Linked DNA regions of Homo sapiens: all the other regions are reported to be linked to region 1. The links are microRNA targets in miRTarBase. Many come from high-throughput screens and were not tested one by one. Region 1 holds a microRNA gene; each other region holds the end of a gene's coding sequence.
What was found. The annotated mature microRNA hsa-miR-4273 reads GUGUUCUCUGAUGGACAG and lies in region 1 at 2,130-2,147, opposite strand. An mRNA with a match to its seed (bases 2 to 7 or 8) in the 3' UTR can be bound and repressed. Matches are read on the target gene's strand: a 7mer-m8 pairs with bases 2 to 8, a 7mer-A1 pairs with bases 2 to 7 and ends in A, and an 8mer does both.

Region 2: miRTarBase lists DNAJC9 as a target of hsa-miR-4273. Seed matches in the 3' UTR shown: 8mer at 2,973-2,980.
Region 3: miRTarBase lists POLDIP2 as a target of hsa-miR-4273. Seed matches in the 3' UTR shown: 7mer-A1 at 4,719-4,725.
Region 4: miRTarBase lists SEZ6 as a target of hsa-miR-4273. Seed matches in the 3' UTR shown: 8mer at 3,233-3,240.
Region 5: miRTarBase lists SAMD12 as a target of hsa-miR-4273. The part of its 3' UTR that is shown has no 7-base or 8-base seed match.

What each region holds. Positions count from the first base shown.
Region 1 is chr3:75,735,332-75,740,436 of GRCh38, reverse strand. MIR4273 (microRNA 4273) reads right to left here and starts at 2,157; the gene lies at 2,074-2,157. It overlaps ZNF717 (zinc finger protein 717), which reads left to right. Exons shown (of 5, transcript NM_001290208.3): 5 at 1,092-4,569. The coding sequence ends at 3,559.
Region 2 is chr10:73,239,373-73,244,477 of GRCh38, forward strand. It overlaps DNAJC9 (DnaJ heat shock protein family (Hsp40) member C9), which reads right to left. Exons shown (of 5, transcript NM_015190.5): 4 at 4,471-4,557; 5 at 2,582-4,147. The coding sequence ends at 4,028. It overlaps FAM149B1 (family with sequence similarity 149 member B1), which reads left to right. Exons shown (of 14, transcript NM_173348.2): 13 at 1-12; 14 at 1,574-5,105. The coding sequence ends at 1,647. Among named protein-coding and RNA genes, the nearest start is that of DNAJC9, 5.3 kb to the right of the region's middle.
Region 3 is chr17:28,343,352-28,348,456 of GRCh38, forward strand. It overlaps POLDIP2 (DNA polymerase delta interacting protein 2), which reads right to left. Exons shown (of 11, transcript NM_015584.5): 11 at 3,282-4,880. The coding sequence ends at 4,766. TNFAIP1 (TNF alpha induced protein 1) reads left to right here. Exons shown (of 7, transcript NM_021137.5): 7 at 1,013-3,658. The coding sequence ends at 1,249. It overlaps LOC124903963 (a long non-coding RNA gene), which reads left to right and starts at 4,879. Exons shown (of 2, transcript XR_007065687.1): 1 at 4,879-4,978. RefSeq lists enhancers at 837-1,340, 1,844-2,347.
Region 4 is chr17:28,951,741-28,956,845 of GRCh38, forward strand. SEZ6 (seizure related 6 homolog) reads right to left here. Exons shown (of 17, transcript NM_178860.5): 14 at 4,979-5,017; 15 at 4,610-4,727; 16 at 4,419-4,521; 17 at 3,165-4,254. The coding sequence ends at 4,222. It overlaps LOC105371716 (a long non-coding RNA gene), which reads left to right. Exons shown (of 5, transcript XR_001752822.2): 1 at 1-1,668. Among named protein-coding and RNA genes, the nearest start is that of PHF12, 2.8 kb to the left of the region's middle. RefSeq lists enhancers at 20-69, 170-579, 281-902.
Region 5 is chr8:118,374,986-118,380,090 of GRCh38, forward strand. SAMD12 (sterile alpha motif domain containing 12) reads right to left here. Exons shown (of 4, transcript NM_207506.3): 4 at 2,999-4,715. The coding sequence ends at 4,432. All of the region lies in intron 4 of LOC105375724 (a long non-coding RNA gene), which reads left to right. Among named protein-coding and RNA genes, the nearest start is that of SAMD12-AS1, 240 kb to the right of the region's middle.

The DNA.
Region 1 (5,105 bases):
CAGAGTAAGATCCTGTCTCGGAAGGAAATTATGAAGCTGAGGAGGACCCATCATAGGGGCCTGGATAGGGGTGGTGCTGGACTTGGGAGGAGAACCAGAAGATTCTGGGTCTCAAGTCCAAAGAAACTAATTATTTCCTGTTGAAGGGCTCAGATTTCTGTTTGAGAGTGGAGTTTGTAGTTACCATTGGAAGATGAGAAATGTACAGGAAACTTCATTTTTATATAAAACTGTGTGACATCTGAAACTCCAAAACACAAAATAAAACCCTTCAAAAATGGTGAATTATCAAGCAGCGATTGGTGAGTGGAGAGGGGCACGGCTGTGGATCTCAGAAGGAACCAGAAATACACTTTTCGAAGATGACGGGCACAGCCTGAGTTGCAGAACCAATCCTTCAGATCACCAGTGTGGTTTTTTGACTGGAGCTTCTGTGCCTATTATGGTTCTGGGAAGCAGGGGATGTCATGTTTAAGTAGGAATTTGCCAGGATCTGTTTTTGTTTAACATGGGGAATAAGAGATTTTCTGCTTGGAAAACCTCCAGACACATTTAACCATTCTCAGGGAGGAGTGAAAGGTTAACATATAGGCAAAATCCTGTCCACAAGCTGCTTCCATGCTTAGGAGACAGAAAAATGGCCATCTCCTATACCTACCAGTTGCTGACCCAGGAAAAACTGGCTATCTTCAAAGAAGAATAAAGAAAAAATAGCAGCTATTAAAACAGCCACTATTGTTATATGAATAAATAAAAAAAAAGAGAGAAAACATATGACAATAATGAGCACTTATTAAAACCTATGAGTAGGAAGTAGATGCATATTATTACCAAATAATTCTTTGTGAAATAAAAAAGAACAGGAAAACTTCAAAATGCAAAGAAAAACTCAATTGAACATTAGAAAATATACTGATTTATTACATTATGTCAGTAGGAACAGAAACCATATGCATATAAAACCAATACCCATATTTATTTTTGTCAAATCTTACTCCACTGAGATAGGAAGTAATTTTTTTTACCTTTACACAAGCATTCTGTAAGACATGCTCATGTGTGGTTCATGGATACCTTTTTTCTCATTTCAGCTGTCCAGATCATTGATGACCTTATTGAAAGGAGCCATGAAAGTCATGATAGATTTTTCTGGCAAATTGTAATCACCAACAGCAACACATCAACTCAGGAGAGAGTTGAATTAGGAAAAACATTTAATTTGAACTCAAACCATGTTTTAAATCTGATTATAAATAATGGAAACAGTTCAGGAATGAAGCCTGGGCAGTTTAATGATTGCCAGAACATGCTTTTCCCTATTAAGCCTGGGGAGACACAGTCTGGAGAGAAACCTCATGTCTGTGATATAACCAGGAGATCCCACAGACATCATGAACATCTTACTCAGCATCACAAGATTCAAACTCTGCTGCAGACTTTTCAATGTAATGAACAAGGGAAAACCTTCAACACGGAGGCAATGTTCTTTATACATAAGAGGGTTCATATAGTACAGACCTTTGGTAAATATAATGAATATGAGAAAGCCTGTAATAACTCAGCTGTTATTGTCCAAGTGATAACTCAGGTAGGACAGCCAACTTGCTGTAGAAAGTCTGACTTCACTAAACATCAGCAGACACACACAGGAGAGAAACCCTATGAATGTGTTGAATGTGAGAAACCCTCCATTAGCAAATCAGACCTTATGCTACAGTGCAAGATGCCTACTGAGGAAAAACCTTATGCCTGTAACTGGTGTGAAAAATTGTTCAGCTATAAGTCCAGCCTCATTATCCATCAGAGAATTCACACAGGGGAAAAGCCCTATGGATGCAATGAATGTGGTAAAACCTTTCGCCGTAAGTCATTCCTCACTTTACATGAGAGAACTCACACAGGGGATAAACCCTACAAATGTATTGAATGTGGAAAAACTTTTCACTGTAAGTCACTTCTCACTTTACATCACAGAACTCACTCAGGGGAAAAGCCCTATCAGTGTAGTGAATGTGGAAAAACCTTTAGCCAGAAGTCATACCTCACAATACATCATAGAACTCACACAGGGGAAAAGCCCTATGCATGTGACCATTGTGAAGAAGCATTTAGCCATAAGTCAAGGCTTACTGTCCATCAGAGAACACACACAGGGGAAAAACCGTATGAATGTAATGAGTGTGGAAAACCCTTTATCAATAAGTCAAACCTCAGGTTACATCAGAGAACTCACACAGGGGAAAAACCCTATGAATGCAATGAATGTGGGAAAACGTTTCACCGTAAGTCATTCCTCACTATCCATCAATGGACTCACACAGGGGAAAAACCCTACGAATGCAATGAATGTGGGAAAACCTTTCGCTGTAAGTCATTCCTCACTGTCCATCAGAGAACTCATGCTGGGGAAAAACCATACGCATGTAACGAATGTGGAAAAACATATAGCCACAAGTCATACCTTACAGTACATCACAGAACTCACACAGGGGAAAAACCCTATGAATGTAATGAATGTGGAAAATCCTTTCACTGTAAGTCATTCCTAACTATACATCAGAGAACTCATGCTGGCAAAAAACCCTATGAATGTAATGAATGTGAGAAAACCTTTATCAATAAGTTAAACCTTGGGATACACAAGAGAACTCACACAGGGGAAAGACCCTATGAATGTAATGAATGTGGAAAAACCTTTCGTCAGAAGTCAAATCTCAGCACCCATCAGGGAACTCACACAGGAGAGAAACCTTACGTATGTAATGAATGTGGAAAAACCTTTCATCGCAAGTCATTCCTCACCATACACCAGAGAACTCACACGGGGAAAAACCGTATGGATGTAATGAATGTGGAAAAACTTTTTGTCAGAAATCATACCTTATTATACATCAGAGAACTCACACCGGGGAAAAGCCCTATGAATGTAATGAATGTGGAAAATCCTTTCATCAGAAGGCAAATCTTCAGAAGCATCAAGGTATTCACACGGGGGAGAAACCCTATGAATGTAGCAAATGTGGAAAAACCTTGTCAGAAGTCAGTCCTCACTGTACATCATAGAACCCATACCGGAGAAAAACCTTATGAATGTAATGAGTGTGGGAAAACCTTTTGTCACAAGTCAAACCTCAGTACGCATCAGGGGACTCACTCAGGAGAGAAACCCTATGAATGTGATGAATGTAGGAAAACTTTTTACGATAAGACAGTTCTCACCATACATCAGAGAACTCACACAGGTGAGAAGCCATTTGAATGTAAAGAATGTAGGAAAACCTTCTCCCAGAAGTCAAAACTCTTTGTACATCACAGAACTCACACAGGGGAAAAACCCTTTAGATGTAATGAATGTAGGAAAACTTTCTCCCAGAAGTCAGGCCTCAGTATACATCAGAGAACACACACAGGAGAAAAACCTTATGAATGTAAGGAATGTGGGAAAACCTTTTGCCAGAAGTCACACCTCAGCAGGCATCAACAAACCCATATAGGAGAGAAATCTGACGTAGCTGAGGCAGGCTATGTGTTCCCTCAAAATCACTCTTTTTTCCCTTGAACACACAACCTACACCTCTCTGGCTACTATTACAGATTTCTCCATGCTCAGTCTAGGAGAATATGGACACAAATGGTGACCATTACCTCCTGGCCTACCAACAAGAAGGTCTTAACCATGCTGTAACAGAAGTCCTATCATGCAGGCTTTGTTGTTCCCATTTTTACAGCACACTTTGCACTTTAATGTCACAGATATGGCTGTTTTCCTAGAAGCTCATATACCAACCTCTGCCAGCTTCAAACATTTCTTCTGCAACTTCCTCACCTCTCTTCTCCTCCATAGAATTGAAGAGAGTTAGGGCCTTTCTCAGGATTAGGCTTTGTCTCAAGGGAATGTTGGGGCTGGTTTGATCTTCTATGTGGACCACTCAGACTTTCTCTGTGTCAGTAAAAAGCCTGTTTTGTTTTTTAAAAATCATTCATGTGTTCTCTGGAGTAGCACCTATAACATCCTTCAAGAACTTTTTCTTTGCATTCACAACTTGAGTAGCTGATGCAAGAAGCTTAGCTTTGGCCTGTCTTAGCTTCCAACATGCTTTCTTCACTAAGCTCGATGATTTCTACCTTTTGATTTGAAGTGACAGGTGTGCACACTTCTTTTCAATTGAACACATGGTGGCCACTGCAGAGTGAAGTGGCCTAATTTCATTGTTGTATCTTGGGGAATGGGGAGCTAGAAGAGAGAAACAGAGACAGGGAAATGACTAGTCAATGAAGCAGTCAAACACAACATTTTTCCATCACGTTTGCTATCTTCCATAGAGTTCCAGCACGCTGAGACAATTCCATTAGTAACATCAGAAATCACTGATCACAGATCATAACAGATGTGATAACTAAAATCTTTGAAAGATTGGGATTGCCAAAAGATGTGACAGAGATGTGAAGTGAGCCCATGGTGTTGGAAAAATGGTGCTGGTCAGGCTTGCTGAGCACTTCGTGGCCACAAATCTTTAATTTGTTAAAAAGGTGATGTTGCCAAGCAAAATAAAGTGAAGCTCAAAGTGAGATGTGCCTCTATTTTGATGGGCTCTAACAATTTGTCTTTTCTGGGTGCATTTAGACCATTGACATTCAAAGTGATTATACAGTTGGATTAATTTTGCCATATCATTTTCCATTAACTCCTATTATTCTTTGATCTTGCTTTGTCCTCCACTCTTTTTCTGCCTTTTATGGAGTTGATGATTTTATACGATTTTTGTTTCCTCTCGTTGCTTTTTTTTTTTTTTTTTTTTTTATTGAGACAGTCACCCAGGCTGGAGTGCAGTGGTGTGATCATGGCTCCCTGCAGCCTCAACCTCATGGGTTCAAGTGATCCTTCCACCTCAGTCTCCCAATTAGCTAGGACTACAAGTATGCAATTAGCTAGGACTACAAGTATGCACCACAATACCTGGCCTTTTCTTTTCTGTAGGGACAGGGTCTCACTGTATTGCTCAGGATAGTCTCTAACTCCTGGACTCAAGCCATCTTTCTACCTTGGCAAGAGCCACTATACCTGGCCTGTTTTCTCTTTTAGCATTTCTATACTTTGGTTTTTA
Region 2 (5,105 bases), not on the chromosome of region 1:
GGGGATCTGCAGGTAAAGGTGGGGCCATGGCCCTTATTTACTACTGTGTGGTTGTGTTAAGACCCAGCCTTTGTCTTTTTTCCTACACCTATTTCCCCTTCTTTCAGATTTTCTTGGATTTAATGTTTTCCCACATCTTTGTAAATCACCTAAAATTCATTTTGGAACATGGGGTATAATAAAAAGCTAGGAGAGTTCTATTGCTCAGAGCCAAAAAGTTTCAGATTCCTATTTTCTTCATACCATGTAAATTAACTTCTCACTACTTTGGTAAACTGCCTTTTTTTTTTTTTTAAATCTAAAAAGTTCAACCCAAATTAGTCCTTGTTGTAATGTTCAAAATATTCTTTAAGAACATAGCATGGATTTTATTATGCAGGCAAAATCCATATTCCTATGGATTAAACTGCTTTGATCAGTTAATCTGTTAGGCCAAGGTAAGAAAAGAAATTCTAAACCATCAGGATATGCTGAGTCTGATTCTATCGCATTAACTCTTTTTATCTTTAAATTATACTCTGTAGATGTACTAACAAAGAAGTGATGGGAGAAAATTGAGGGATGTCTTTTTTGAGACAGTCTCACTCTGCTGATCAGGCCAGAATGCAGTGGCATGATCATGGCTCACTGTAGCCTCGAACTCCGGGGCTCAAGGGATCCTCCCACCTAAGCCTCCCACATAGCTAGGGCTACAAGCAGTGCCACCATGCCCAGGTAATTTATTTTTTGTAGAGACAGGGTCTTGCTATGTTGCCCAGGCTGCAGGATGTCTTAATTCTTCCTGTGACAGTCTTCTCACCACCATCAGGGTCATTCTTATTATGCTGAAGGTAAATTTAGAAGTAATGGACAGCTGAGATGTTTCCTGTTAATGATCAAAATAATCAGCAACTATGGTAAAAAACTAGTCTGCCTCAAACCATCTTTGTAGTCCAAGTGATTTCTCAGCTCAGTTCCCCGCAGCATTGTCTGGTAGTCTTTGAATGCTTTTGTCAGATTATGCTTTCAGATCTGCATTTGAGCTACAATTTCAGCCACATTGAAAGTCAGGTATAACTGGCTGGGCGTGGTGGCTCATGCCTGTAATCCCAGCACTTTCGGAGGCCAAGGCGGGCGGATCACGAGGTCAGCATATTGAGACCATCCTGGCTAACATGGTGAAACCCCATCTCTACTAAAAATACAAAAAATTAGCCGGGTGTGGTGGCAGATGCCTGTAGTCCCAGCTACTCGGGGGACTGAGGCAGGAGAATGAGGTGAACCTGGGAGGCAGAGCTTGCAGTGAGCCGAGATCATGCCACTGCACCTCCAGCCTGGGGGGACAGAGTGAGACTCCACCTCCAAAAAAAAAAAAAAACCTCAGGTATAACTTATGTAACACTGAAGTGGAAGTGAGTAAATCAGACATCTTGCTTCTTTTTAATTAGTGGGCTCTTCTACAAAACTAGTTTACTGCTTTCATACCTTAAGAAAGTCCAATTCATAATTGGAGCAAAAAAGCCCTTAGCTATAAACTTGAGAGTGATTATCAAACCTAGACTGTCTACTAATGTTACTCTATGTCATCTGACAGGTCCTCAGTTACATGGGTCTACAAAATCTCAAAGCGGAGGCAGACCAGTCTCTCGAACCAGGCAGGGACCATAAGGCAAATGAGAAGAATCTATCAGGCTGCAGGAAACACGAGATTTCATGAAGCAGTATTCAGTCATCAAGTGATGCAGAGCTTGTATAGAAGATCGACTAGAAATCATCTTCATGAAGAGTGATTTTGGCACAAGTGACCGAAGAACAAAACACCATAGCAGCCAAAAATGACATGAGTGTTGTTTCTATCTCCAGTTACTGTCTCTTTCAGCAGAAATTAACCTATCCCATTGGAAAGGCAAGTTTGTACCCAAAGATGCAACAGTGAATAATACCCAAATCACTGCTCATGTTATCTCTTAACAATGATCAGTTCAATCATATAGGATTTGATGAGCTCACACATACACAAAAAGCAGCAAATCATCAGTGACAATATCACTGGCTTCAGAATACTTCAGCCTGTGTTCATTTCTGGAGAGTTGTACTCAGTTTTAAGTCATTTTGCTGTTGAAAATCTGACCTCATCAAATAGATGTCATTCCTAAAACTCTCTTTAGATGTCCTACCCTATCAGCAGATTAAAATGGAAGGGGTGTGTAACTAAAAACATAAATGTTAAGCATTAGTATAAAGTAACTTCTGTAATAAATTATATCGCATATTTTTTCAGATAGGACAGCTCAACCTTACGATGCCTACCTGATGCCAGGTGATGCTTATTTTCTTCCTAAAGTAGGTTACTGGTCATATCTTTTTTCCAAATATTAAATGCACCTTGCCAGATATTCTCCTGCAGCTCTAAGGAAAGGAAATCAATTTAAAAATAATTTGTAGAATCTACTATTGAGCCACCAAAGTATAATTCCCTAAAAGTTTAAGAAACCCTGGCAATTAATTCAGCATAAACATATCCTATAAACAGCAGGAGAGGTTCAGCTTTCTGATTTTACTGTGGACCTTTTCCTAAGGGCATTCATGAATGCAGCAACAGTTTTAACTATGGCTTACATTTATTTTAAATTTCACTAAATACAAATCTTGATTGTCATGCCAGTTTTAGATCTTATTAATTTTCAGAATGGATAAATTCAAATAATCATAAATTACGGTAACTTTTTATTATACCAAGGTGTTCTAATGCCATCATATGAAGACAGATGCTTCAAACAACCTGCATTAAATTATATTTTTAATAAAATTAAAATCTATTTTTAACCTATTTGTAGTCACAAACCGAAAACGTGTCGTCTTTACCTTAGAGCTAAAGGCTTACTTTATGCATACGGTATATTTAATAGTCTACAAATCAAAGATTTAAACAGTCCCTTAAAAATTCCATATATTCTCATACCAACTCATCTACATAGAAATGAAAATCTCTATTGTTCTCACAAACCATTACCATGAGTTCACTATAACAACTGGATCAATATGGCTTGCCTTTCAAAGTTAAAGAATCAGAAAGGGGCCTGTAAGAAGTCATTTAGCCCAATTCCCTCACCCTGTGTGTTTTCCCTCAAAGCCAGTGCAATTTTTTTTTAACCAAAAAACTGGACATGTTTAATACATACAGTTTGACAAATTTGGATTTCACTCTTTGTTTTGATGTAGTAACTCTTTTATAAAAGGGAACAGATTCAGACAAGCTCAGTGGCCCAACTGAAGACATTCAGCAATTAATGGCAGGACTTCAGTAATCAGTGGCAGGACTACAACATACATCTCTTCATGCTAGGGAAACCAGGCTCTCTATTATAAAGCTGACCAGGGCTATTGTTTTCCCCTTTTCTCTCATCCTAAACACCATTCATATTTTTCCTAGGTCACATTTTAGTGGGATCATTTACAAAGCCCCCAGAACTTAATCATCATGTTTTACCTTTTTTATTGAATTATATACACCTCTTACAAAAATGCTTGAAGTAATTTAACACCTGTACATCAGTACAAAACCTGGCTGAGTAAAATGAAGAGAGGATCTATTCAAGATCATTAAGACCAAATGTAAACTGGGAAGTATGTGGAAGATAGCTGTCCAGCAAGTGTCTGGAAGGTGTTCTAGCTGGGTAGAGAGCCTATTCTAACAGACACGCACATCGCAGAAAGCAGCATGAACAGAACCACATCCTAGATAAGAGTTCTGTGTACAGAAGATCCATGGAGGCAAGTGCTGTCAGGAAGGACACTGCCTCCCTCCACCCTCCCAAATGTCACCACCAAGTTCCTTCAGGTGAGACCTCACACAATGTCAAGTGCTTTCTAGGAAATACTAAGATCAGGTTGAGAGATTCTGCTTGGTCTAGTCAATCTGAAAAATTCAGGCTGGAAAGACACCTTTTCTCAAGAGCTGAATTGACTTTTGCCTTCAAATCCTGCCTGCACCTTGCCTACGATGGCATCAATTTACACCTAAGGACCTTTGAAGAGAAAAATTCCATTATTTCTTTTCTTTCTTGAGAGCAGATTTTTTCCCTCCTCCTTTGGAAGATTTGCAGTACTTTGCTTCCATCTGAGCCAGAAAATTGTCCATTTCCTTTTGCCGATCCTTTTGTCTGCTCTGTTTGAGAAGTTAAAACACAAGCTTTCACAACATTATCCATAGACAGAAAGTACCTAGTGGTTGCCAGGGGCTGGAAAAGTGGAATAACTACTAATGGGTATGGAGTTTTTTTGGAATGGTGAAAATGTCCTACAATTGGTGTTAATAATTGTAAAACTTTGTAAATACACTTAAAACCACCAAATTGTACACTTTAAAAGGACAAATAGAAGGTATGCGGTTATGTCTTAAAAGAAGAAAACAAAATACAACATTCCAAAGAAAATATTAGCAGTAGGAATCAGATCATTAAAGATGTGGCAACAAACTGCCAAGTTTACCTGAATGGCTGCCTTCAGGCTATCCACGCCTTCATCAAGCCCCAACTCCTTTCTGCTCATTTCTGCTTCTTTGGCCTCTTCCTGAGCCTGAAACAGGAACTCACATGAGACTCAGGGCCACCAGGAAATGCTTAAAATACATACTCTTTCCCAAAAGCAAATCTATAATTCTGTTTCAATTTTATGAATATATGAATAGACAAAATGAATCGAATTACATAACTATGTCATTCATTAAATGGCAACAATGCTGACAGCAAGCAGTAGATCCTCTGATTCCAATTACCATTTGTTTTTTACCCAATTCTATTTGCTAGAGGTAGTAAGTACTCTGGCACTCATAAATCACATGATGATAAAAAGGAACATGAGGCCGGGTATGGTGGCTCACAACTGTAATCCCCATACCTTGGGAGGCCAAGGTGGGAGGATCACTTGAACTCAGGAGTTCAAGACCTGCCTGGGTAACATAGTGAGACCTCAGTTCTATAAAAAAGAAAAGAAATGAGCCTGGTGTGGTGGCATGTGCTTGTAGTCCCAGCTACTAGGGAGGCTGAGGTGGGAAGATGGCTTCAGTCTGAGAGTTCAGGCTGCAATAAGCTGTGATCATGCCTCTGCACTCCAGCCTGGGTGAT
Region 3 (5,105 bases), not on the chromosome of region 1:
GCTGGGGTGGATGGCAGGTCATCCAGGAAGGGCCATGTGGGTGTGAAGAGCTCAAAGTAGCCAGACTTGCCAAGCAACTTGTCGACCCCCAAACTACTCCAGGTGCCTCCAGCTGGGAGATCTGCAGAGGGTTTGGGGAAGGCCAACTTACAGGTGGCCCTGCTTCCTTCTGCGGTTTTTGGTGTAGGGGTGGGAGGGAGGGCGACAGGTGGTTCCTGACCCTATCGGTGGTGAAAGGGTTCAGGGGCAGGTCTCCAGTGGCTGGTGATGCTGCGACGGAAGTGGCAGCGCACCTGGCATCTTCTTAAGTGTGTTGTCTTTCATGAACTCGTGTGACCCCTCACAACATGCCTGTGAGACACGCAGGGCTAGAGCCACTCTCCCCATGTGACAGATGAGTGAACAGAAGCTCAGTCCAACAGAGCAGGTCTGGCTAGAATTCAGGTGCTTGACTGCCTTCCCTTTCTCCTTCCTCCAGGCAGGTCATGCCGGTGACACACTGCGTCAGGCAGGCAGAGAAAGGCAGCATAACCACTCAGCATAGCAGCTGCTCTGTGTATGCCTCTGCTTGGTGGTTTGCTGTGTGCCAATCTTCTGCTAAGCAATCACATCTTTCCCGTAATGTTGACAGCAACTCTCAGGGGTTGAGCTGAACCAACCTTTTGTACATATGGGAGCTGCAGCCCAGAAGGGTTCAGCCCAAGGCTCCACAGCTAGCAAGTGGTAGAGCTGTGTTGGGACCTAGCTCTGGCCCACCCTCTATGCCCACTAGTCCCTTGGTCTCAGGCTGGGGCAGGGGTGTGGAGGATGTTGGTCTTCCCTGTCCTCATGTCTGTAGAGTACATCCCCTCACCCCGCCTTCGGAGGGAGGCTGGCTTTCCCTGGAGACGGACCGCCACCTGTTTTATGAGAGGTAGCGGAGGCCTTATGGAGCCTCAGGGCCAGCCGCTCTGACGCATGGCTTCCTCTTGAAGATGAAACCTTGCTCCACCTTCTTCCTCCCTAACCCCAGGTGGAATTCCCAGAGGCCCGAATCTATGAGGAGACACTCAACGTCCTACTCTATGAGACTCCCCGCGTCCCCGACAACTCCTTGTTGGAGGCCACAAGCCGTAGCCGCAGCCAGGCTTCCCCCAGTGAAGATGAGGAGACCTTTGAACTGCGGGACCGTGTCCGCCGCATCCACGTCAAGCGCTACAGCACTTACGATGACCGGCAGCTCGGCCACCAGTCTACCCATCGCGACTGACCAGACCCTCAGGGAGTCAGGGCACGGGAGGCCCTATCTCCCATCCTGTGGAACCCGCCCCATTGGCCACCCCATGCTGCTGCTGCCTGGGTCTCTGCTCTAGCACCCAGAGGCATGACAGGCCCTGCTCAGAGGTCAGAGGGTCTGGGCAGAGGAGGGACCACATTCCCCTGCCTTGCCCCTGAGCACTTCTGGAGACTGCGTCCTGTCCTATCTGCTCACCATCACCCTTCCTGCCCGACGGAGCTGCTTCTGCTCCCTGGGGCATATGGACTGACCCACCTCCTGCTGAGAACCTTCCCCTAGGCCCTGTGCAGAAGGCTACTGCCCCTTAGGCCTCAGCTGGGGGAAAGGCAGTTCTGGTGCTGTAGAGGCCCTGGTGCAGAAAGTGGGACGTCTTTTTTCCTAAGGTGTTTAAGCACAGGCTTGATAAGTTTGGTTTTTAAAAAATAATCTAGGAAATGAATAATTCTAAATCTAGTAATGAGGAAACTGAGCATTTCTTTTGCCCTCCAGGGTGCCAAGACCCTACATATGACAGAACCCTTGGCCCTTCTCCATGCCTGTGGGATCTGTTTCTTTAAAGCACTTTGTACTGTTATTCAGGAGGTTGATAATCTCCTTGACCCATGTCTTTCTACCCTAATCCCCACTTCCCTGCAGAATCAATCTGAGGGAGGGGATAAAGAGGAAGCAATAAAAAAAAAACATCCGACAGAGCAGCTCTGGCTTTGCAGCCTGGCCAGCAGCTCAGAGTGCACCGAGGAGGGAAGGATGGCTAAGCTGGGACCGGCAGTCCTCACAGGGTGCCTGTGAGAAAGGACATTTTACCCCCACATCATAGTCACATCACTGACTCCTAGGTCTAGCACGACTGCTCTTTGTGATTCTCTTGAGTACCCTTGGCTTCCAGCCATGCTGTCCTCACATACGGTAAAGCCAAAGAGCTGTCACATGGGCCAGAAACATGAGCCACGGCAGGAAGACCGTGGAGCCCGTGGGCACTGCATGGTGTTGGCTGGCATGCCCATCAGCTGAGGACAGCAAACTCCCAGCAGCCCCTACAGAGGTGGCACATGCTTGGCCACACATCTACTCCCTGCCCACACCATCTATGCTCTTGGTTGGTGCTGGCTGGGATGGCGGTTCTGCCCAGTGGTGTCTCTGAGCGCGGGATGACAGGAGCAACCGAAGCACCCTGAAGGCCTTCACTCCTTGTTGGGTAACTCAGCCATGGAGATGCCAAGCACTAGCCAGGAGGTGAGTTCCTCTTTAGGGCTTTGGTTTTCATTCCTTTTTGTTTGGCTTGGCCAAACCAGAATTCAGCTTATCTGAATTATTTTCCAAAGGAATGCTGTCAGGGAGGGACTGTTCTGCCAGCCTAACAAAGCAACGTAGCCACGTATAGTACCCACTTTCTGCTCTTTGGAGAGAACACAGGTTATCAAGTTCATCTCTCTTGACTACTCTTATGATAGCTGATGCCACAGAGCCTATGGGCAAATGCCAGACCCAGGGTTAGACACAAGGACCTGAAGTGACATGACGGCGGGACAGGGGAAATGTGACTTTCTAATTAGGCATTTTATGTTAGTCACAGTCTTGAATGTATAAACAGCACTAAGACTCTCAGGTCAGGTACCTTGGTGATCAGCTACTAGTTCTTCCAGCCCTCATTGAGGTAACAAGATAAAGACAAATCCACTTCTTTGGCCAAATTCAGGCTTTGGCTTTATGACTTTCCCACAGAGACTGGAATGCGTCAGCCTGAGACCACTGGCCTATTTTCTCAGCTGCCCTCTTGAGGTCCTTTAACACTCAAATTCCCAGCTCCCCACTGAGGTGTTGTGATGCTTGCCTTTTGACCTCCCCATCCCCTTTAGTCCCTGCTTACTACTTTGACATTCACATCCTCAGTGTCTCAGTCTTTTTTGCCGAGAAAGCACAGTAGTCTGGGACTGGGCATTTATCTTCTCTGACTGAAAATCTCTCCTTGGTCTTAAGGAAAATACTAACATTGAACTCACTGACATGATCTTAGCTTCTTTAATCAGACTTTGTGACTTAAAAGTTTGGGGGTTTTCTTTGAAAGTTTCCAGCCCTATTCAGAAAGCAACTCTTGGCTGTGTGCATTTTTCAACTCCAAGCAGCCCAGGGGTAAGTAAACAAAGTATGGATGAAGGTCAGATTTTCTTGTCAGTTTCTGAGAAACCTGGCAGCCTGCTGTTAACAACACAGGCCAGTATTGGGTTTTATTGAATTTGGTATGTGACCAAGGTCGGCCTAAAGGATGGCGCAGGTCCTGGGCAGGAAAGAATTTTTCCTTTATCACATAACTGTAATATTTGGTTGCTCAGCATAAGTGATGGAAGCAAACACTAATTTCTAATAAAATTGTGTTAAACTCAATGGTACAGAGCCATGTTTACAGTGAGCAGGCCTTGACCAGCTTGCGGCCATGGGCTGAGTTCCTGTGCTTCTGTTTATCATCTGACCTTGTGTTCTAGCCAGGTCGTAAGCGCGACTGTACTGTTGCCCTGCAACCCCAGCTCCCCCTGGAGGACTAAGGACAAGAATAACAAGGGCTGGAACTGTGATTTAATATTAATTCAAGAAAACTACCTCTAACAATCACTGCAGTGGCGGAGGAAAAGAAATCCTAAGAATTGGGGCAAGATGCAGCACAATTCATCTCTGGCTCTTGGAAATCTGAGAGAAGCTCAGGAAGTAGCTTGACTTAGTCATCAATCCATACCTAAAGCTGCTCCTCAGCCAAATTCCTGCATTTGTGGTCTGGATGCTTGGCAGAGTCATGCTGAGGGCTGGCACACCCATTGCTCCAGGAAACCCGACTGGCTTGCCTCCCTCCTCTCCTGGGCCTAGCGAGGCCAGAAATGGCAATGGTCGGTCAGTGCTAAGAGCCAGGCCACTCCGACCCTGACACTGGCCTCCCTCTCTGCATTTGGCAGAAGGTAAAGTGAACAAGAGTCCAGTCCAGCACCCCCGCCAACTAGCTGAGAGGCACAGTGACCCTAGGAGATGTCCAGCCAGCCTCCAGGCTGAGAGGGAAACAGGCACATGCCCTACCAGGGGGGCAGCTCCCTGGAAGGGCAGCAAAGAAAGCAGTCAAGGGCGCACACTGGGTCAGAAGGGGAGCCTGAGACTCTGGGAGCAGAAATGGCAAGGGTGGCCAAGCGTGCACTGGTTTACTGATCAAACCTCACGTGACAGGCCAGGAAACTCCTCCAGGCCTGTGGCAGCTGAACACAGTTCCTTGGTGGAGAGGTTTACTGGAACATGGTGTAGGCAGGGCTTATGAGGAGGCCAGCCTTGGAGGTGTCCCACATGGGTCTTCTGAAGAAAAGTTATACCACCCCTCCCCACAAAAAGAACCCCACAATCAAATTAAGAGACCCACTGTGGCCCATGATGGGGAGAGAAGAGTTCTGCAGCAATTGTGGGATGAGAGTTGTTCTTCCCGGTGACCAAGCCTGGGCACTTGGGGCCTCAGCTGGCCTACCAGTGAAGGCCTGAGGGTGGTGTCTTCTCATCTTTATTGCTTTCCAGGGAGAAGGGAGGAATCCGAACATCAAAGTGGGAGCCATCAGGTCTTTCAAAGCGGAACGTGCCCCTACAGTCAGAAAGAAGCTGGTTTAGAAGGAGCCAGGGCTGAGGCCTCCTAAGGATCTGGATGGCCCCATGCCCTCAGCTGCCAGCCACAGAGGACATGTGAGCCTGAGCTCTCTTCTATCTCTAGCTCATGACAGGATGACTGGTCCAGAGACCCAAGAGCCCCTCATGGTTATCCATGAAAAGAAAAACACAGCTGCAGTGGCTCACGCCTGAAATCCCAGCA
Region 4 (5,105 bases), not on the chromosome of region 1:
TTCATCCATTGGTGTTTGTGTGCAAACTAAGACGACTCTGTTCTGCGCAGGCGTGTTGGGGGTGCTCCCCCTTCCTCTCCATAACACAGACGCCTCCCGCGCAGGCGTATTGCCTTCCGCAGGCCCTCACAAGAAAGCTGCTCCTTTCGCCATTTTGGTAATGGGATATGGGCTATCATGCCCTTGGAGTCCTCAGGCATGAACAGAAAGGAGCAAGGTGTGGTGTTGGATGGAGCTGGTCGCCTGTCGGTGACAGCAGTATTCCTAGGGATGTTGTACTTGACCGTTTGGTTCTACCATCGGGTGTGGCTGGACCAGGCCACCATATTGGTAAAGAGAAAAGCCATTTGAGACAGAAAATGACGCTTTTGGAGGCGTGTGGGATGACTGTGGTTCCTAATTCTCTCCCGCTCCTGACAGATAATTTTATCAGTTAATTGTATCCTCAGCATCCCTGCCTTGCGTGGTGGTGGCACTGGAGAGTTCCGCCTGCCCGTTACCACCCTCTCTTCACCACTGTCCCTGAGATCTGCTCTTCAAGAGGAAGCCTAAAGTGGAGAGTTTGTAATCCTGACAACGCCCAGCTACCTGCGTACCCCGGACTCCAACTCCCAGTTTGCAACGCCAAAGGGTCTAAAGGGCGAACGGGGGCGCATTGCATCCTGGGAGCAAGAATCGCGATAGGTCTGATGGATTGTGGGAACTGTAGTTCCATGTGCGTGCGATGCACTCTATGGTAGGATAGACCCGGGGAAGAGTCATTTGCCGGCCAGGAAGGGATACTTTTGAGAGCGTCAGTGCTGCATGCCGGGATTTGTAGTCTGAGGGCCCGCCTCGCATTCTGGGCGGGGATTCATGCTCCTTTTCAGGGCGCCCGCTCCTCCCCTTGGTATTGCCGTCAGAGATGGGCGGTTGGTTATTGCTGCCTGATGGTGGATGAAGCAGTGGAAAAGAGAATTGTATCGTTGTGCTTGACACTAGGGGTTTAGTTGGAATTGTTGCTTCGTAGCTGTGCTCGGCCCACTTTTAATGTTAAGGGACACAGCATTCTCAGAGTCGTCAAACTAGCAAGGGTTTAGAGACCATCTGATTTAATCCCCTCTTTTCCAGATGCACAGGGAGGCGCAGTGATTTGCCTAGGTCACATAGTGCATTTATGGCAGACCTAAGAATTGGATTTCTTGATTCTCAAGCCAGACACTGTCCATTACACTATGTCGACTGTGTCTAAGGAATTACTATGCTTGCTTTGGGGACAGTAAGGAGGATGAGTTAGACAGAGTGGGGATGTCAGTGTATGGAGTCTTAGGTTTCTGTTTTCCTGACTTTTCGCTTTTCTGATGACCCTCTTGGTGCCTGGAAAGAATGATAAGGTCATGGATGGTGGGGTGGAGAATGTCATGTGAATTGGCTGCCCTCTGCTTTCTACCATTCTGAGCCAACAATAAACTTCAGGAGCTGTGGACCAGAGATGTGGCCATCAGAGAGGGGAGGGCTGAGCTAGATTGTTTGTATGAAAGAGGCAAGATTTTCTATCTCCTATGGCTATATTTTATGTCACAGGCTCTCAGAGTTTAGAACCTCATGTGCCCTCTCTCTTTGGCTTTTTTTCCTACTGCTCAGGGCCCAGCTGTGCTGCTGTGTTAACCTGGAGGCATTATGGAACAGGTAAGTAAGCCATTGGCATCCATCCACTGGACAAGGCTTTGCTTTGATCAACACCATCAATTGCAGCTGATAATAGGAACTATGGGCTAATGAGGGAAATAAGACTTGGCTCTGTTGACAAGAGCCAGGGAAACTTCACACCTCTTCCTCTTGGAACTTGCAGGATGAGGTTAGGCCAGTGGGGCCAAGGAATGCTCCCACCTTGGAGAGCTCCCGCCCTGACAGTTGAGGGGGGATTGAGGGGCGAGCAGGTGGGATACAGACGCCTTTGGAAGTGACCTCTTGTGGCTAATCTAGGCACTGCACTCTGCATGGACAAGAGCTTCTCCATCCTTCAAGGTGGCTTGTGCTAGAGCCAGGGGTAGGCAGCATGAGTGGTCAAGACTTCCCTTTTGGAAGACTGTAGAAGCAGAAGGTGCTGGTTGCTGCTATTATTTCTTTCATGGATTTTTCTCTACTGGTTTCTGAGCTCCCATAATTTCCTGTTGCCTGCCTCTTGCTGTCACTCTTGGAGAGCAGCAATGCAGGGCACACCTCTCAGCATGGAATGTGCATACTGGGGGCCAACGCTGGGCACTTTCCATCTTTGTAGGTGCTGGGGCCCATAGGGAAGGGGCAAACTTGAGCACATCCTCCCAGCCACCTTTTTCCAGAGCCCATGGTTAGGGCCTTTGCCTAACTTAGGATCCAAGCCCGTAAGCTGCATTACCACTGCTCCTGACAATCTAAGGGTTTTGTAAGGCCAAGCCAGATTAGGGCTTCATGTTTTGGGGATCAGTCTCTGTTTCCTATTCTAATTTCCCAAGCCTTGCTTACTTAGAAATAAGGGGAAGGAGAGATGCATCAGACTTCCTGAGCCTAGTTAGCATTGAGAAGGGCATCAGTGGCGTTGAGAAGGGATTTGGGAGTGTGCCAGCCTGTAGTTCTGGACCTGGCAAAGAGGAGGAAATAAGGCATTGGGTGGATGTGCAGTGGGGTTCCTGGGCTCCCACATCCCTGTAACATCAGCCATTGGGGCCTCTGATTTTGCCTGCTATCTGTTGCACTGTCCCTTTTGGTACAGGGGACCCTGTTCAACTGCATGCAATAATTTCTTTTAAAATAAAATCTGAGCACTTTGGGTGGCTGAGGTGGGAGGATCACTTGAGCCCAGGAGTTGGAGACCAGCCTGGGCAACATAGTAAGACCCCATCTCTACAATAATTTTTTTTTAAATTAGCCATGTGTGGTGGCCTGCATCTATAGTCTTAACTATTCAGGAGGCTGAGGTGGATCACTTGAGCCTTGGAGGTTGAGGCTGCAGTGAACCGTGATCCAGTCACTGCATTCCACCCTGGTTGACAGAGTGAGACCCTATCTCAAAAACAGTAGTAATAAAATAAAATCTGAAGATGATTGATTGGTGGGTCTAGCATGCCTTCTGGTCCTGAAGTCCATATCCCATTTATCTCCCACCTCCCGTCCCTCCAAGAAAGCATCATTCACCTGGCCATTGCTTTTTTTTTTTTTTTTTTTTTTTTTTCCAAAAACACCATTTTAATAAGGAAACAACAGAAATAAAAGATTGTTCTCTGGCTGGAGCCCAGACCCCATATAATACATTACATGTACAAAGTGGCTTTCAGCCAGCTCCTGGGCGTCTCCCTGGGGCTCTCCTACCACCTGTTCCATGCCAAATTCCTGGGTCCTTGGACCTCTGCTCCTCTCCAGAATATGCCCACCCCCTCCCCTTATCCCATAACACAGTGGTCAAGAGGAGAGCCTGACAAGTGGCTGGAATTGGAGGAGGGACTATTAGGGTGAAGATGTTTGCAACAGCTAAATAAACATCGGAGGAAAGTCTCCCTTTCCTCAGGGTATAGGGTGGTCAGTGGAAAATGGCGTGTCCTGCTTTGGTGTGGAGCATGAGTGCCCAGGGAAGCCCAACCTGAGGTGGGGGTAGGGTCCCCCTGAACCCCTTAGGATCTCCTAGAATTACTGCCTCCACTGGGACAGGGCAGGAGGCAGAACTGTCCAGAACTTTAGAGAACTAGAGACCTCCCAAGAGGCTGATGTTGGCATGCCAGGACTACCCAGAGGTCACCGTTGAGAGGAGTTTTGGCCATTGGTGATGGCGCTGTGAGGAGTACCCTGGTGCAGTTCCCACCATGGTCAAGTTAATCCTGCTGCAGGTTGCCATGCCAGGGCGGGATGGTGGTCATGTGGAGAAAGGTACTCCTGCTCTGCTAGTGTGTTCCAGGCTGGTCCAGGGCATGAGGAGGCTCAGGATGCTGGCTGTTGATGCTTGTGCTCCAGCTATGTTCTTCCCACAGGTAGATGCCCCCTGACATGGGCCCAATGAAGGGCCCCAAGTGGGCAATGACACCAAGAAAATAGGCCATGGTGGGCATCGCAGGCGGGGAAGGGCACAACTTCTTGAGGGCTTGGTGGCATCTCCTCCTAGGTGGTATATACAGGAGGTGGAGGGACAGCAGGAAGCAAGGAGCCTTGCTGCTGGACTGTGGTGCAAGTCTGAGTTGACTTCCCTAGACTGCCCCCACCTAGATGGAGACTTCATATTCTCTCGTCTCCTGCAAAGGAAAGAGACTGCTGGGAGTTGGAAACTTGTATTAGGTTTGCCAGGCCATAATTCACCTTCCCTAGGAAAAGGGAAAAAGTGAGAGGGCTTGGCAGGACCCTCAGGGTTATCTGCCCAAAGAAGCAAAGAACTGGGTCTTGGATAGGGTGGCAAGGCTGGCATGGTTACTTACTCCAGTCTCGTAAGTTGGATTGTCAAACGCTGACTCTATGGTAATGCGGTTGTAGGGGCGGGGGCGGGGGCGGGGCAGCTGCAGGGAGCTTTTTCCCTGGAGCCTGTGGGGCAGAGAAGCCTGCAAGTCAGGAGCACTGGGTAGGAGTGAGGTATGCAGGTATGCAGAGCAGAAAGAGAAGCCAGACTCACCTGGAGAAGTAGAAGTATACACCTCCTACCAACAACACCATCGCCACCAGTGGCAAGAAGATGGCAGCTGCAATGTGGGCAGCATCCAGGGTGCTGGAGGCAGCAGGTGCCTTGGCAACTGAAGACACAGAGGGTGTGACTGGAGCAGAGGTCTCTGTCACCTGGAGCCCATATTCTCTCACCTCTGCCCAAGGGCATCTGACTACCAGCTCCCTCTAGCTGGCTGGGTGTAGGGAAGGAGCTTTTTAACCTGCTAGGCCCAAACCTCTCTCTTTCTCTGCCCTCCCTCCTTGGGAAGCCCATGACCTGGGAGCCGTGAGAACCAGGACCAGGGAGACCACTTCTCTGGCCTCAAGGGTGGAGACTTACCATCCAGGCTGCGACTGTTGTAGAACCCATCCAGAGAGGCTGGAACAAAAGGGGAGGGCCAAGGGCAGTGAGTGAGCCCAATGGGCCAAACCACTAAGGCAGGGAGAGGAGGTAGTGGGATGATCAT
Region 5 (5,105 bases), not on the chromosome of region 1:
GTATTGGAACACTGCTATGCCTAATTCATTTAAGTATTGTCTATGGTTGGGTTTTGCCTAGTGGGGGTAGTTGCAACAGATACCATATGGCTGCAAAGACTAAAATACTTACAAACTGGTCCTTTACAGAAAAGGTTTGCCAACCTCTGTCATAGAATATGCAATGAACTCTATTATACGGTTTCTACATAAAATCTCATTTAACAACCACCTGGAGATGGAAATTATTAGCCCATTTGACATAATAAAGGCAATAAAGCGTAATGGGTAAAAGTTTGCTGTGGAGTCAGACAGACCTGTGCTATGCTTTTTACTAGTTGTCTGACTATGAGTATATTACTTAACCTCTTCATCCTCTCTTATACGCATATGTAAATTATTGTGATGGTTGCACCACTCTCTTTACACACTAAACATCACTGAATTTTAAGCCTTAAGTGGGTAAGTTGTATGTTATGTGAATTATATCTCTATGAAGATGTTATAAAAATAAGGATTATTATAAATGTATGAGGTTGATTAAATTGCGTGGCTTCTATTACTGATAGCCAACAATATTCTGCATTTACTATCATACTGTATCGAGTGATTTACATATCTTAGCTCCCTTAATTCTTACAACATCCCTATTTGGTGAGCACAGCAAAATGTGTTAGGTACAGGATTTAAAATTTGGGCCTGTCTGATGCCAAAATTCACCCTTTTTCCTTCTTGTTTCTTTTTAAAAATTTTATTCCTTTAAATAGTTAATATACTCATACATTTCATCAAACAAAGTGACATAAAAGGCACACACCCTCTCTCCATCCACCATATTCCCTGTCCCACAGGTGCAGCTTGTATTAGCTTCTTGTACATCATTCAGCATTTCCTTAAAACAAAGCACATATGGATATACATTTTTATTTCCTCCTCTTTGGCAAATGTAGCATACTATACGCATTGTTCAAATATAGTATACATTGTTCTGCACCTTACTTTTTTCTCATCTCATAGCATCCCAGAGATCCTACCATATTAGTATTCTTCATTCTCGTATTTGTAGCTAAGAGTACACCAATGCCTGGGTGTACCATTATTTAATTCACTATTCCCCTCAAGATGGACAGTTAAGTTGTTTCCAAGAAACTATATTTTGAAATTGCCTCCAAAGGCAAGAAGAAAACTCCTAAGAAACGCAATCATTTTTAAAATAAATTCCTTTCCTCAAAAATGGACTTTGAAAGTGATAACTCTTCTTAAAATGCGTTGGTTAGTAAATATTTGTTAAATATTAATGCAATTGTCTAAATGTTATGTCTCCTCAAAATTTATGTATTGAAATCCTAACCCCCAAGGTGATGGTATTGGACGGTGGGGCCCTTGCTTGGTGATCAGGTCACGGGGGTGCAGCCCTCATGTATGGGATTGGTGCTCTTGTAAAAGCAGCCCCACAGATATCCCACCCCATGTGACATTACAATGATTAGAAGGTCATCTGTGAGGAAGTGGGCCCTCATCAGACACTGAATCTGCTGGCGCCCTGATCTTGGACTTCTCAGCCTCCAGAATTGTAAGAGAGAAATTTTTGTTGTTTATAAGCTACCTAGATTATGGCATTTTGTTACCGCAGCCTGAACATGTTAGATAATCATCAACAACAAACAATTAAATGCATTACACCAGAGTGACAGCCCCACGTGAGCCATGGAAGGATACTCCATCTCTATGGATAAGAACTGTGATTCACCCTCTTTAAGAGGGAAGCCCAAGGATTTCCAAAAACATTCCAAAGTCTTTGTTTGTACTTATTCAGCATATTGTTTCTGCTGAGTAATATTTACAGAGATGAAGAATCAAATATTCATTACTGAAACATCTGTTACCCCTATGGTGAATTTCTATATGATATATATTTTAAACTAATAAGTTCACCTGAGTGGAATGAAATTCTAATATTTTTATTATAGCAAACCTAGACCCAAAATATTTTAACGCTAATCTGTCTTTACAACTTCTACTATTAATCATAAAACATAAAAACAACTTATCAATTTTGTTTCCTTTTTTTTTTAAAAAAGAAACTATTACTTCAATAAGGCTATGTATTTTCTGAAGGATGCCTGACATAACATGAGTTTGAGCATTAACATGTGAAGAACCGGCTCACGCCTGTAATCCCAGCACTTTGGGAGGCCAAGGTGAGCAGATCACTTGAGTCCAGGATTTCGAGACCAACCCGGCCAACATAGAAAAACCTCATCTCTACTAAAAATACAAAAAATTAGCCTGGTGTGGTGGTGCATGCCTGTAATCCCAGCTACTTGGGAGGCTGAGACAGGAGAATCACTTCAATCTCGGAGGTGGAGGTTGCAGTGAGCCAAGATTGCGCCACTGCACTCCAGCTGGGGCAACAGAGTGAGACTCTGTCTTGAAAAAACCAAAACCAAAACCAAAAACCTATGTAAAGAACAAGCAATAAAAAAGGTAATATCAGCACAGACAAAATACCCAAGAGCTAGAGAACAATGCGGCCTTCCAAAGGGAACTGAATGAAAGAATTAAAAATGTACAGCTTTTCAAAGCTCAAGAAAGTGACAACAACAACTGAATTCAAAGGACTGAACTGGGCATTATCTTCCCAGAACACGTATGTATATTTAGCTTAATAGACCTGAGTACTATCTTAGGAAAAATCTTATATATTATGCATCTAGGGCAATGAGAGCTGTAGAAAATGATTCTCCAAAGCAAACACACTGCAGGCTGACATTAGTAGAGGAAAAGAGTCAAAGGCACACATAATGCGTCACATGTGAGTTTAGGTCTCATTCTATATAGATCATCACCAGAGGGAAAAAGAATGAGCTGCAAAAACCAGACACTAAACAGAAGCTGGGCAGCTATGCTTGTGGTTGAAGCTTAAAAAAATGCATATGTGTATTTTCTGATTATAATTGTAATATGAATTTGCAGAAGATTTGGAAAATACAGAAAAATAAGAATTTAAGTCACCCACTTATCCCACAATCCAGAGAGATCCTTTATTAAAATGGTTGGCATATTTACTTGCAGTCCTTTTTTTCTGTACATATAAGAATATATGGTTTTTACAAAATTGGGCTTATATTATGCATACAATTTTACACATGACCTTTCCTCCCACCTTGTATGACTTACGTAATTTCCCATGTTGTCATGTATTCTTTAAAGATGTAATTTTAATAACTGGGCATTATACTGAATCTTATGAATTTAAGCAGAATTACTTGATTCTTTTCACATTGCTGGACCTCTAGGTTGCTTGTAAATTTTCCGTTTTCCAAATAGCACTGTGACAGACTTTCTTATCATAATCTTCGTATTTCTATCTACTTCTTAAAAGAAGCTTAAAAGCCTATCAGTATTTCACATTCAAATTTAAATCACTTAGTATACCAGTAAATTCACCATTGGAAATCTCTGAGGACAAAATGCAAATAATGCATATGAGACAAACAATACTATTTTACGATCACTTGAAATCTATATTTATCCTTCTAGAATAGTCATCTTTCAGGGAGCACATTATTTCCTCTAGGCAAATGGACTATTACTAGGTTAATCTAAATGCAATAACATGAAACTTGGCTGACCCAGATTTCTCCAATATCGGTATGCATGCAATTACAATATTCTGCAGAATGACAAATACTCAAGGCTCTCAAAAACACATATTTTATCATCCTTTCATTTAAAACGATGTACAATGGACGCTAAAATAAAACAAATAAAGTTTATAGCCAATGAAGGTTGATAGCATCCAAATCTCATGTAGACATATCAGTTACATATAGTGTAACTTAAGGCTTTCTTCGAATTCTAGCTTTATTTTGTCACTTCCACAGTTATTGAGATCTTAAGTGCTCTCATCATATTGAAGTTATTTATAATTCCTGTTAAGAATTATATACTCTTAACAGTGTAGTTTTAGATTCACTATAGTCTATTATAAAAATTATTCCACTTTCAAGAAGCTAAATGGGGTTCTTACAATCTCTAAAGTGTGTGTGTATAATACATTCATGTATAGTAATACATATCTAAAATGTTTTTCTCCCACTAACCGGTGAAAAGCAAAACAAAAATACAACAAAAACTCCACTTATATCACTGGTCATCGTAACTATTGAATCACTCAAATGCTAAAGCGCCCTCACAATTGGCGCAGGTGAAGATAGCTACAGCTGGACTGTACAGTTGTGCAGGCTGCACATTATACAACTCTAGTGAGTGCAATCGTACCCTGATTGATGTGACTGGTATTCTCTGGGGTTGTGCAGTACACAATCCATACAACTGTACGTGACCACCTTGAAGTTAGCTCAGGTAATTCTGTTTGCTCATCCATTACTTATTTGTGCATCCTTCTCCCTAGTGAGCTATGAAAAAAGTTTTCAAAGGGAAGTAATCTTAAATCTGTATACTATTTTCTATGATGGAAATTCTGTGAAGAAACAATAACAAATTCTCCCTGACTCCTGTCTGTCCTAATAGTAAGGTGGTCTTTCTTCTAATCTCCCCATCCATCCACCCATCAGGAAGCAATAGGGTACCTTGTGTGAGTAACTGTAGATTTCTGACTTCTTCTCGCACCTTCAGCTGGAGCACCTGTTGTAAGATGTGCTGCCGGAGGTTCTCCTGGGCAATCCCCATTCGCTCGAGCTTTTTGTCAGTAAGTCTCAGCAGGGCTCGCCCTGCAGGGTTTTAAGAAATAAAAGGAAAAGCAAATGAACTACTTGCTGAAGAAAGATGTCCATTTTGGTCTTGACTAACCCTGCCATCACAGAAGTTTCTACCTAAACACAGACATTTTAGAATAAAGGTCTTCCATTATTATTGCTGACACAAATGGATTATCTGGGTGAAAAAAATACACATATTTAAAAGAGAACCCTAACTTTTAATTGAACATTGGGAAACCCCACTGACTCACACATTCAGTTAGAATGTGTGACTCATACATTCAGTTAGATAAAATAGGAAAACCTTAACCTGGATATTTGGGTCACAAATTGCAGGTTGCCATAGAAACAATGCTCTTCACTGGGGGCTGGATTCTCAGGCTGGCCCACAGGAGCCCAAGT